Linked DNA regions of Homo sapiens: region 2 is linked to region 1. Evidence: fine-mapped QTL for protein levels in blood plasma. A gene starts in region 1. The other region holds a variant in brackets. All regions are shown on one strand. Distances are from middle to middle.

What was found. PIP is the chance, under the fine-mapping model, that this variant and not a neighbour inherited with it causes the effect. Protein levels are from the aptamer-based SomaScan assay of Sun 2018.
Region 2: its variant is fine-mapped to the plasma level of the BST1 protein (Sun 2018, PIP 0.95).

What each region holds. Positions count from the first base shown.
Region 1 is chr4:15,699,949-15,705,321 of GRCh38, reverse strand. It overlaps BST1 (bone marrow stromal cell antigen 1), which reads right to left and starts at 2,257. Exons shown (of 9, transcript NM_004334.3): 1 at 1,990-2,257. The coding sequence starts at 2,177. RefSeq lists a silencer at 2,239-2,318.
Region 2 is chr4:15,739,651-15,745,023 of GRCh38, reverse strand. It overlaps a transcript of BST1 not described here and the pseudogene PFDN1P2. Among named protein-coding and RNA genes, the nearest start is that of CD38, 36 kb to the left of the region's middle. The variant G/C (reference allele first, on the strand shown) is at 3,268.

The DNA.
Region 1 (5,373 bases):
AAGGCACTGCACAGATTTCTCAGAGCTAAGGAATACAGCCTTGCCCCAGGCTCACGGAGACAAGCAGAAATGGCACCGAGCAGGAGGTGACAAATTCAGTCAACTATACAGCAGGTGCCTCTTCATTTAGACCTAACGGTGGGGCCAGTCTCATAGTCCAGTTCCAGTGTGGAGCTCGGGGACCAGGTGAGGCCAGGCCAGCCAGCAGGATGTGTAGTGTTAGGAGGGAGGCCCAATGCTGCAAAAGGCTTCCACCTCTGGCAAAGCAGGTGCACCCTCCAGTGCAAGCCCCTCTTGAGGTCCATGCTAGTTTTCAAAAAATATTTCCCATAGCATTTGTAACTTTGTTTCTCATACTGGGTGGTGTGTAACACAGGTGGTTCTCTGCTGTTTCTTATTTGCCTGAAATGTGCGACAATAAAAATGATCAGCACAAGAAAGACATCACAAACATAAGAAAAGGGGGGCCACAGAAGGAACAAAAATCAGTAAGAAATGCAGCACTGGCAAGAAAGACCCAAACTTCAGAAATCCTCCAGATTTAGGGGATCTGAAATTTGAATTCTGGAAGGACTGGACTCAAGGAATTCCAACCTGAGATCACATTCTGGGTTCTGAGTATTCAGACTAAACATCTGCTGGGTGGCAATGGGCTGTTACCCAGTTCACCTCTACCCCACCCTCACTTCTAGAGGGATACCTCTCCACCCTCCTTCACACTCACACACACCTCTCACCTCTAGACCACACACACATCCCTCACCTCTAGACCACACACACATCCCTCACCTATAGACCACACACACACACCTGTCACCTCTAGACTACACACACACACCCCTCACCTCTAGAACAAACACACACACATCTCACCTCTAGAACACACACACAACTCACCTCTAGAACACACACACACACACATCCCTTACCTCTAGAACACACACACCTCTCACTTCTAGAACACACACACCCATCATCTCTAGAACACACACATCTCACCTCTAGAACACACACCCCTCAACTCCAGAACACACACACACCCCTCACCTCTAGAACACACATACACACCTCATCTCTAGAACACACACTCTCCTCAGCTCTAGAATACACATACACCCCCTCACCTCTAGAACACACACACCCCTCACCTCTAGACCACACACACATCCCTCACCTCTAGACCACACACACATCCCTCACCTATAGACCACACACACACACCTGTCACCTCTAGACTACACACACACACCCCTCACCTCTAGAACACAGATACACACACACCTCTAGAACACATGCACGCACCCCTCACCTCTAGAACACACACACACACATCTCACCTCCAGAACACACACACCCCTCACTTCTAGAACACACACACCCCTCACCTCTAGAATACACACACCCCTCACCTCTAGAGCGCACGCACACACACCCCCTTCACCTCTAGAACACACATGCACACACCCCTCACCTCTAGAACACACATACAGACACCTCACCTCTGGAACACACACACCCCTTACCTCTAGAACACACACACACATCTCACCTTTAGAACACACACACACACCCCTCACCTCTAGAGCACACACACACACACACACCCCCACCTCTAGAGCACACACACACACATCCACCTCTAGAGCACACACACACCTCCCACCTCTAGAGCGCGCGCACACACACACCCCCCTCACCTCTAGAACACACGCACACACCCCTCACCTCTACAGTGTGTGTGTGCGCGCACACACACACACTCATCTCTAGACCCCGCACAGCGCACCCCTCACCTGCAGACACACTTCACAGCCCCCTCCTCACTCGCCCCCATCGTTCAGGACCATCGCTGTCTCCACACTCACCTCTCCCCTCAAGGCCTCTCTCATTGCCCCCTCACCCCGAACTTTAGCGCCAGTTTTCCCCTCCCCAGGCCCTCCCCACCGTTGCCTCTTTCCGGCTCCCCTTCCACCCGGCCGACTGCCTCACCGCTGCTCGGGACTCAGCAGTGCGCGGTACTCGGCGCAGCGGCCCAGGAAGATGTCCCGCAAGTGTGCGCTGGTGCCCTCCCCGCGCCACCGCGCGCGCGCCCCGCCCGCCGCCAGCAGCAACAGTAGAAGCAGAAGCTGCAGCAGCAGCTGGAGCAGCCGCGATGCCGCGCACCCCTGGGCCGCCATCGGGGAACTTTGGTCCCTCCAGTCCCGTGCTTCCTCCACTCCCCTTCTCTCCTTCTACCAAGGCGGTTCCGCAAACTGATGCAGGGCGGGACTCTCGCTCGGATATCTCGCTGTTTGCCGTTTCCCGTTCCAGACAATTTCAAGACTGAGCGTGGGGCGGGGCGCGGCGGCTCATGCCTGTAATCCCAGCACTTTGAGAGGCCTAGACGGGCGGATCGCTTGAGTATAGGAGTTCGAGACAAACCTGAGTAACATACAGGTGAGAAACCTCCTCTCTACAAAAAAATACAAAACTTAGCTGGTCCTGGTGGTGCGCATCTGTAGTCTCAGCTACCTGCGAGGTGAGATGTGAGGAGGCTTGACCCCAGGGGATCGAGGCTGCAGCGAGCAGTGATTGCACCACTGCACTCCAGCCCTGGGCGACAGAGTGAGACTCTGTCTAAAAAAAAAATTAATAAATAAATAAAATTAAAAAAGAGTGAGCTTGGAACATCACCCAGGACAGGACCAGTGCACTGTGGCCCAGGCTAATCTTGACCGCTGTCCACGGGGAGGGAGCCCCAAAGAAGCCGCAAGGTTGAAGGAGAGGTGAGGAGAGGTCAGTCATCATCAGAAGAAATACTTTTCTGGCTCCAAAGGACGACAACTTTGACAGATGCCCTCTTTCACACCAACCAATAAGTGGTGTTTGTTTGTTTTCAGGAAATAATAACCACAACAACGTGCCAAGCACTTTGCAAGTATAATATTAATTACTTTCCGCAACACCCTTCCTAGCTAAGTTTGTAATTTCTCTCGCTTTAGCAATGGATAAACTCAGGGAAGTTAAGCATGTTCGGCCCTCCAGATTTGCGGATTCATCATCCAAATTCAGCTAACCACGGATGAGAAACATTTGAGGAAAAAAAGAATGCTTGCATCTGTACGGAACATGTACGGACTTTTTTTTCCTTGTCATCATTCCCTAAATAATCCAATGTAACAACTACTTATGTAACAATTACATAGTACTTGATATTACAAGGAATCTGGAGATGACGTGAATTATAGAAGAGGATGTGCAAATACTGTATACTACACCATTTAATATAAGGGCCTTGAGCATCTGTGGATTTTGGTATCCAGGAGGTTCCTGGAACCAATTCTCCATGGATACCTACCGCCGACTGTAACTTGTCAGAGGTCACAATATCCCTTCCTGATAGATGCAAAATCCTGGAGATGTTCAGTTTAAGAGAGCCAGGATTGGCCGGGCGCGGTGGCTCACACCTGTAATCCCAGCACTTTGGGAGGCCGAGGCGGGTGGATCACGAGGTCAAGAGATCGAGACCATCCTTGCTAACACGGTGAAACCCCGTCTCTACTAAAAATACAAAAGATTAGCCAGGCGCGGTGGCGGGCGCCTGTTGTCCCAGCTACTCGGGAGGCTGAGGCGGGAAAACGGCGTGAACCCAGGAGGCAGAGCTCGCAGTGAGCCGAGATCGGGCCACTGCACTCCAGTCTGGGCAACAGAGTGAGACTCCGTCTCAAAAAAAAAAAAAAAAAGAGCCAGTATTAATAGAATACCACGTGGAGGCCCAAGTCCTCAATTCTTACAATAATGACAGCAATGAACTTTGAGTGCCTGGCAAGCACTTGATAAACACAAGGGAGGACAGAACAGGTGTTCTCTACTGTTTTATTTGAATCTCTTTTTTTCTGTAACCAAAACCCGCATTCTCCTGTTCAGTTCCTCCTTAAGTTAAATCCACTTTCCAGAGGAAAGCATTTTTAATTCTTTCAAGTTTTGTTCCTGTGTTTACTTCCATATTTCTAAATAACATGTGTGAACCCGCAAATTTTGAGACAGGTCTCAATTAATTTAGAAAGTTTATTTTAGCAAGGTTGAGGACACGTGTCCATGACACAACCTCAGGAAGTCCTGACGACATGTACCCAAGGTGGTCAGGGCACAGCTTGGTTTTATACATTTTAGGGAGACATGAGATATCAATCAATATATGTAAGAAGTACATTGGTTCTGTCCAGAGAGGCGGGGACAACTCGAAGCACGGAGGGGGCTTCCAGGTCTCAGGTAGGTGAGAGACAAATGGTTGCCTTCTTTTGAGTTTCTGATAAGCCTTTCCAAAGAAGGCCATCAGAATATGCATATATCTCAGTGAGCAGCTGAATGACTTTGAATAGAATGGGAGGCAAGTTTGCCCTGAGCAGTTCCCAGCCTGACTTTTCCCTTTAGTTTAGTAATTTTGGGGCATCCCTGGCATGGCTCGTCCCACCAAATCTAATGTGAAATTGTAATCCCCAACGTTGGAGGTGGGGCCTGGTGGGAGGTGATTTTATCATGGGTGTGGGTTTCTCAAGAATAGTCTAGCACCATCCCCTTGTTGCTATTCTCATGATAGTAAGTGAGATCTGGTTGTTTTAAACTGTGTAGCACTGGCAGGGCGCCGTGGCTCACACCTGTAATCACAGCAGTTTGGGAGGCTGGTGTGGGGGGTGTGTTGGGAATCACGGATCGAGACCATCCTGGCCAACATGGTGAAACCCCATCTATACTAAAAATACAAAAATTAGCTGGGCGTGGTGGCACGCACCTGTAGTCCCAGCTCTTCGGGAGGCTGAGGCAGAAGAATCGCTTGAACCTGGGAGGCGGAGGTTGCAGTGAGCTGAGATCTCACCACTGCACTCCAGCCTGGTGACAGAGTGAGACTCTGTCTCAAAAAAAAAAAAAAAAGAAGTGTGTAGCACCTCCTCCCTCTCTCTTGCTCCCTGCTGCCACCGTGTAAGACCCATTGCTCCCCCTTTGCCTTCCACCACATTTGGAAACTTCCTGAAGCCTCTCCAGATGCAGAAGCCACTATGCTTCCTACAGCCTGCAGAACTGTGAGCCAATTCAACCTCTTTTTCTTATAAATGAGCAGTTTCAGGTATCTATAGCAATGCAAGAACAGACTAATACAATACCTATATGCTATTTCTTGATGTTTCTGTTTGGGACATTATTCTGTTTGGGACATTATGACATTTTATTTGTTGTAAACCTCTTGTTTACCCTGGAGGTAATCATTATCTAGAAAGTAACTAGCTTGCTTTTGATATTACAGGCTCATAGGCAGAAGGCATTTGCCTTGTCTCAGATGAAACTTTGAACTGTGGACTTTTGGGCTAATGTTGAAGTTAAGACTTTGAGGGTCTG
Region 2 (5,373 bases), 40 kb before region 1:
CTGCTAATAAAACTGTTACTGAAATGCTAAACATGTTTTATAGCATTGGAATAAATCTGAAAAAATATTTCATTATATAAATTTTAGCATGTCTAGAAGTGATGACTTACAGAAAACATTTTCCAAAAAATTTAACTCTTCATATCAGTTCTGTATAAGTCTGAATTTTTATTTGAGCTTTGAACATTCATTATCCTTGTTTCTAACACGATTTTCAAATTTAGATAATTTTTGTAATGGCTGTTTTTAACAAGTGGCTTGCAACAAAATTCATGAAAATTGAACAATCAGCCCTCCTGAGTGGGTATAGGCCAGCTCCAGCACTCCTCTGCCCCTAAGCCTCACGATTACAGTGTCCATCTTATGATATTGGCCAAAGGGAGAAAGTCTTGGAAGTGCTGCTTATTGTTGAACTTTCTTTTGGAATGTGATATGGTTTGTCTGTGTCTCCACCCAAAATCTCATCTTAAATTGTAATCCCCATAATCCCATGTGTCAAGGAAGAGACACCAGGTGGAGGTGATTGGATTATGGGGGCGGTTTCCCCCATGCTGTTCTCCTGATGGTGAGTGAGTTCTCACAAGATCTGATGGTTTTATAAGTGTTTGGTAGTTCCTCCTGTGTCATTCCCTTTCCTGCCACCTTGTGAAGAAGGTGCCTTGCTTCCCCTTTGCCTTCCACCGTGATTTGTAAGTTTCCTGAGGCCTCCCCAACCACGTGGGACCCTGAGTCAATTAAACCTCTTTCCTTTAAAAATTACCCAGTCTCGAGCTGCTCTTTATAGCAGTGTGCCAATGGACTAATACAGAAGGTATGGGAGAAAGCAGGGAAAGGAATCTGTAGGCAGACTGCCATAAAGGAACCACTATTCTTTTCACTTAAATTCAGCTTTCGGTGTAAGTCTTCTTTCTTCCTCATCTGTATACTACACAGAGGCCCAGAAGGTGAAGGGATTAGTCAAATGTCCAGAAAAGGAAAAGATAAGAGGACAAGATCCCATCCCCCAAGGAAAGAAAGACTCTAATGCAGAGGGAGCAGGAGCTGTGATGGAGATAGCCACTGCCTCTCTCACCCTCCATTCCCATCCCTTGGCTCAAGAAAGGCAGATGTAGCAGAGTGGGACAGATGCTGTTTACTGGTCTGACCAGCGTCCCTAATGGAAGGCTCAGACAGAGCCTCCTATCAGTCCTGGCTCCCATCTTCCCTTTCCTGGGAGCTCATGACTCACACCAACAGAAAAGAGTGTCCTGAGCAGGGGAGGCAAAGCCAGGGTAAAAATCTCAGAGTTGGGATACAAGAGGGGCTCAACATGTGAGATTGCTAGGCCATCCAGATAAAACATCCATTAGGGCAGAAGACAGACTGTTTCCCTGCACAGACCACTCTGCCCTTGCCAGAAATAGGAGGGGCAGGAGGAAGAGCTTCCCGCAGAGGCTCCCAGCTGGGCCCTTTGTGCCATCAGCATCTCCCAGATGTTGCCCTCAGCTTCCTTAACATTCTGCTCTAGGTAGGATTTTTTTCTGTTTTAGTTCTTTAATTTTTTTTTCTTCTGCTATTTTCTGACTTTCTAACAGTTTATTGTGAACTGCCTCCTTGGATTGAAGAATAAACATTCTTCATCTTCATACATATATCCTACAGCTTCATACAGATTAGTCTCATCCACCGAAGTCATGATCTCTGCATCTGTAAGATGTGCATGCTTTTTTGTTCTGTTTAGCTGTTTGGTCGGTATGTCTGTAAGCTTCACCTTCTGTTGAGTGTCAAAAACTTTGTCTTGAAGCTCTGTGAAGATCCATGGGGGTTACCATCTTGGTGTCTGAATTTTATTTTAAATGTAAAATTATGCAAGGGAATTTTGATGTTTCCTCTGACATTGTAATTTGTGGAAGTTGGTGCAACAAACTGAAAGTGGGTTCATGATTTTCACATACTTCAAAAAGGTCTGTTTATGCATCCTTTCACTGTACCTTAAAGTATAAGGAAAAATTAATTTCAAAACTGTCCTCCTTGTAAATAAGTGGCTCATCTGAAACTTCATATTAATTTGTTTTCTTTCCATCCCATCTCTGCTGCAGCTGGTGCCAGTTGCCATCTCAGGGCAGGCCCAATGTCCTCCTGGGAGCAGTCCTGAACCCATGACTGACAAGTAGATAAATATCTCAACCTCCTTCTGTCTCAGATACAATCAGTTCGAGGTGCATTCTGCACTGTATGCCTTAGTTCCCCAGCAGGCTTCAACCCCAGTTTCCTTCAGTGATAACAGCCTGATAACACTGTATTGGCTTCCTGCCATCCCTAACTCAATTCCCACTTCTTCATCAGTGTTTCCTGTACCTTCAGGTAGTTTATTACCTCCCAAATGAACTCCCTGGACTTATCCTCTGTCACAGGTCTGCTTCTAAAGAAATTCAAAGTCAGTCAACAACTTTGTCTTTGTCTATTTAGTGTTGCTGTAACAGAATACCTGAGCCTGAGCAGTTTATAAAGAAAAGAGGTTTATTTGGCTTAAAATTCTGGTGGCTGGAAAGTTCAAGATTAGGCATCTGTATCTGGTGAGGGCCTCAGGCTGCTTCGACTCATGGTGGAAGTGGAAGGGGAGCCAAAGTATGCAAAGAGATCACATGGCAGTAGGGGAAGCCAAGGAGGGAGGGAGACAGGTGCCAGGCTCTTTTTAACAGCCAGCTCTCAAGGGAACTAAGACAGTGAGAACTCACACACCCATCCCCAAGGGAGCACAGTAATTAATTCATGAGGGGTTGACCCCCATGACCCAAACACCTCCCAGTAGACCCCACCTCTGAACATTGCCACATTGAGGATCAAATCTCAGCATGAAGTTTGGAGGGACAAACATTCAAACCATAGCAAACTTAATCTGGCTTAAATAATAAAGAGGATTCCTTGATGAGCAAGAGAAGAGACCACCTTCTTCTCCATCTCAAACCCTGAAAAACTGCTTCTGGGCTTGTCACAGCTTTGGCAGCAGAGCTGAGCATGTTAAAATAAAATGGAGTTTTATTTGTTTGTACTGTATGTTGGTGAAGGAGGCAGCAGCAACAGAGACCGGGGCGTTATGCACCAACCATATTATGCATCTGGAGATTCCCAGAGCAGCAACTGGGACAGGGACTACTGAATCCCTCAGACTTTAGGCCATAAGCCAATGAACATTTACTGTAAAAGGTGAGATAATACTTTTCGCTTTGCGGGCCATGCAACCTCTGTTGCCACTGCTCAACTCTGCAATAGCTCAGAAGCGGAATA[G/C]ATAAGCACAAACTAATGAGCATGGCTGAGTTCCAGTAAAACTTTATACACTAAAATTTGAGCTTCATGTAGTTTTCAGACGCCATGAAATAATGTTCTTCTTTTGATTTTTTTCAACCATTTAAAAATGGAAAACCCACGTGTGTCTTTGGGGTTGTACAAAAGCCAGAATGGGCCCCTGCTATGGGCCATTGACACATGCTCTCAATAAGGCTGTGAATTAGAGGTTTCCCTGCACACAATGTTGTAAGCCCCTTGGAGGTTTGGAGATTCCAGCATCTATGACTGATTTTTCATGAAGGTTATTGAGGATGTGAACAGAATGTTTCAGTACTTTCCCCATCCATCTGCCTCAGCTTTCCTCTTCCTACCCTTCCTCCCTTATCAGGAAGCACTTCTATAATAATAGGATTGCTAGGAGCACAGAATTCTCGGGCCATGTTTTACTCCTGGACAAGGTTACTCTACTCCAAGTATGGTGTCCTCCCTGGCCTGTCCACTCTAGCTGTAGACAGGGATGGCCCCTAGAGGGAAGCCTGCCAATCCAGCTGTTACATAATGACAGCTGATCTCCAATCTGTGATTCTACTTGTCTGTAGCAGCCCCGTTTGACAACTTTGTTGGAGGAGGAGTGAGTAACGGCCAAATTCAATCTTTTGTCGCTAGATATAATACCAAAAAAACTGTCACTGCTCTTCCCAAGACTCCTAATCAATATCATCAGTAAATATTGGCTGAGTAAATATATGCAACCTCTGTCACAACTACTCAACTCTGCGGTTCATGACGGATAATGAACCCTGTGGACCCCTCACGAACCACGGAGTTGAGTAGTTGCGACAGAGGTTGCATGGCCAGCAAAGCTAAAAGTATTACTTCACCTTTTACAGAAAATGTTCATTGGCCTATGGCCTAAAATCTGAGGGATTCAGTAGTCCCCGTCCCAGTTGCTGCACTGGGAATCTCCAGACGGATAGTTTGGCTTGTAAATAATGCTCCAGCCTCTGTTGCTGCTCCTTCTTCACCAACATATAAGAAATAAAATTACATTTTATTTTAATATCCTCAGCTCTGCTGTCAAATATTTGTTATAATTTAACAAATTAATAAATTTGTTAAATAAGGTGCAAATGCTGAAGACAAACTCAGTAGTTGAGAACATAAACCTTTGTATAGATTAGTCTCCCTACCTGAAAATATTTCCAATCCACCCCCTCACACCTTCACCTCTCATCTGGCTAATAGCTCTCGTTTTTTCAGGTTCAACTTAAGGAAGACTTTCTCTGGAAAGCCTCCTCTCCCGATACTAGACTATGTTAGGTTTCCCCCAGTGCACAATCCCAAAGGACTCTGTTTCATCTTCATCCCACAAATGAAAGTAGATAATAACTACTAATTTAGGCCCGACATGGTGGCTCATGCCTATAATCCTAGCACTTTGGGAACCCAAGGCGGGCAGATCACTGTGGTTAGAAGTTTGAGACCAGCCTGGTCAACATGGCAAAACCCCGTCTCTAGCAAAAAGAATACAAAAAATTAGCCAGGCATAGTGGCGTGTGCCTGTAGTCCCAGCTGCTAGGGAGGCCGAGGCATGAGAATCACTTGAACCTGGGAGGCAGACGTTGCAGTGAGACGAGACGGTGCCACTGCACTCCAGCCTCGGTGACAGAACGAGATTCAGTCCCCCCTGCCCCCAACTAATTTAGTTATCAGCCAGTGAGGATCAGGAGATACACTCTCTCCCTGTCTCTCTCTATCCTTATCTCTCTCTCTCTCCCTTCTTCCCTCTCTTTCTCTGTCTCTCTCTGTTTCTCTGTCTGTCTGTCTCTCTCTCTGTCAATGTCTCCCTCTCCTTTTCTCTCTCTCACCGACTTCCCTCCCTCCCTTTCTCCTTCCCCCTCCTACCACCAAATTTTATTACTAGCAGCAATGGTGAACAATGACTTCACTCTGATTATATTTCTGTACACATCTTTTTACCCTACAAAATTTAATCGAGTTTAATGTGTTCCCCTGAGAGCTTGTCACTGTATGTTAACTATTTTAAAATTTTACAAGCACCATCTTAGAGTTACTGTGTCACATGTCCTATAGCAAAGTCATGAA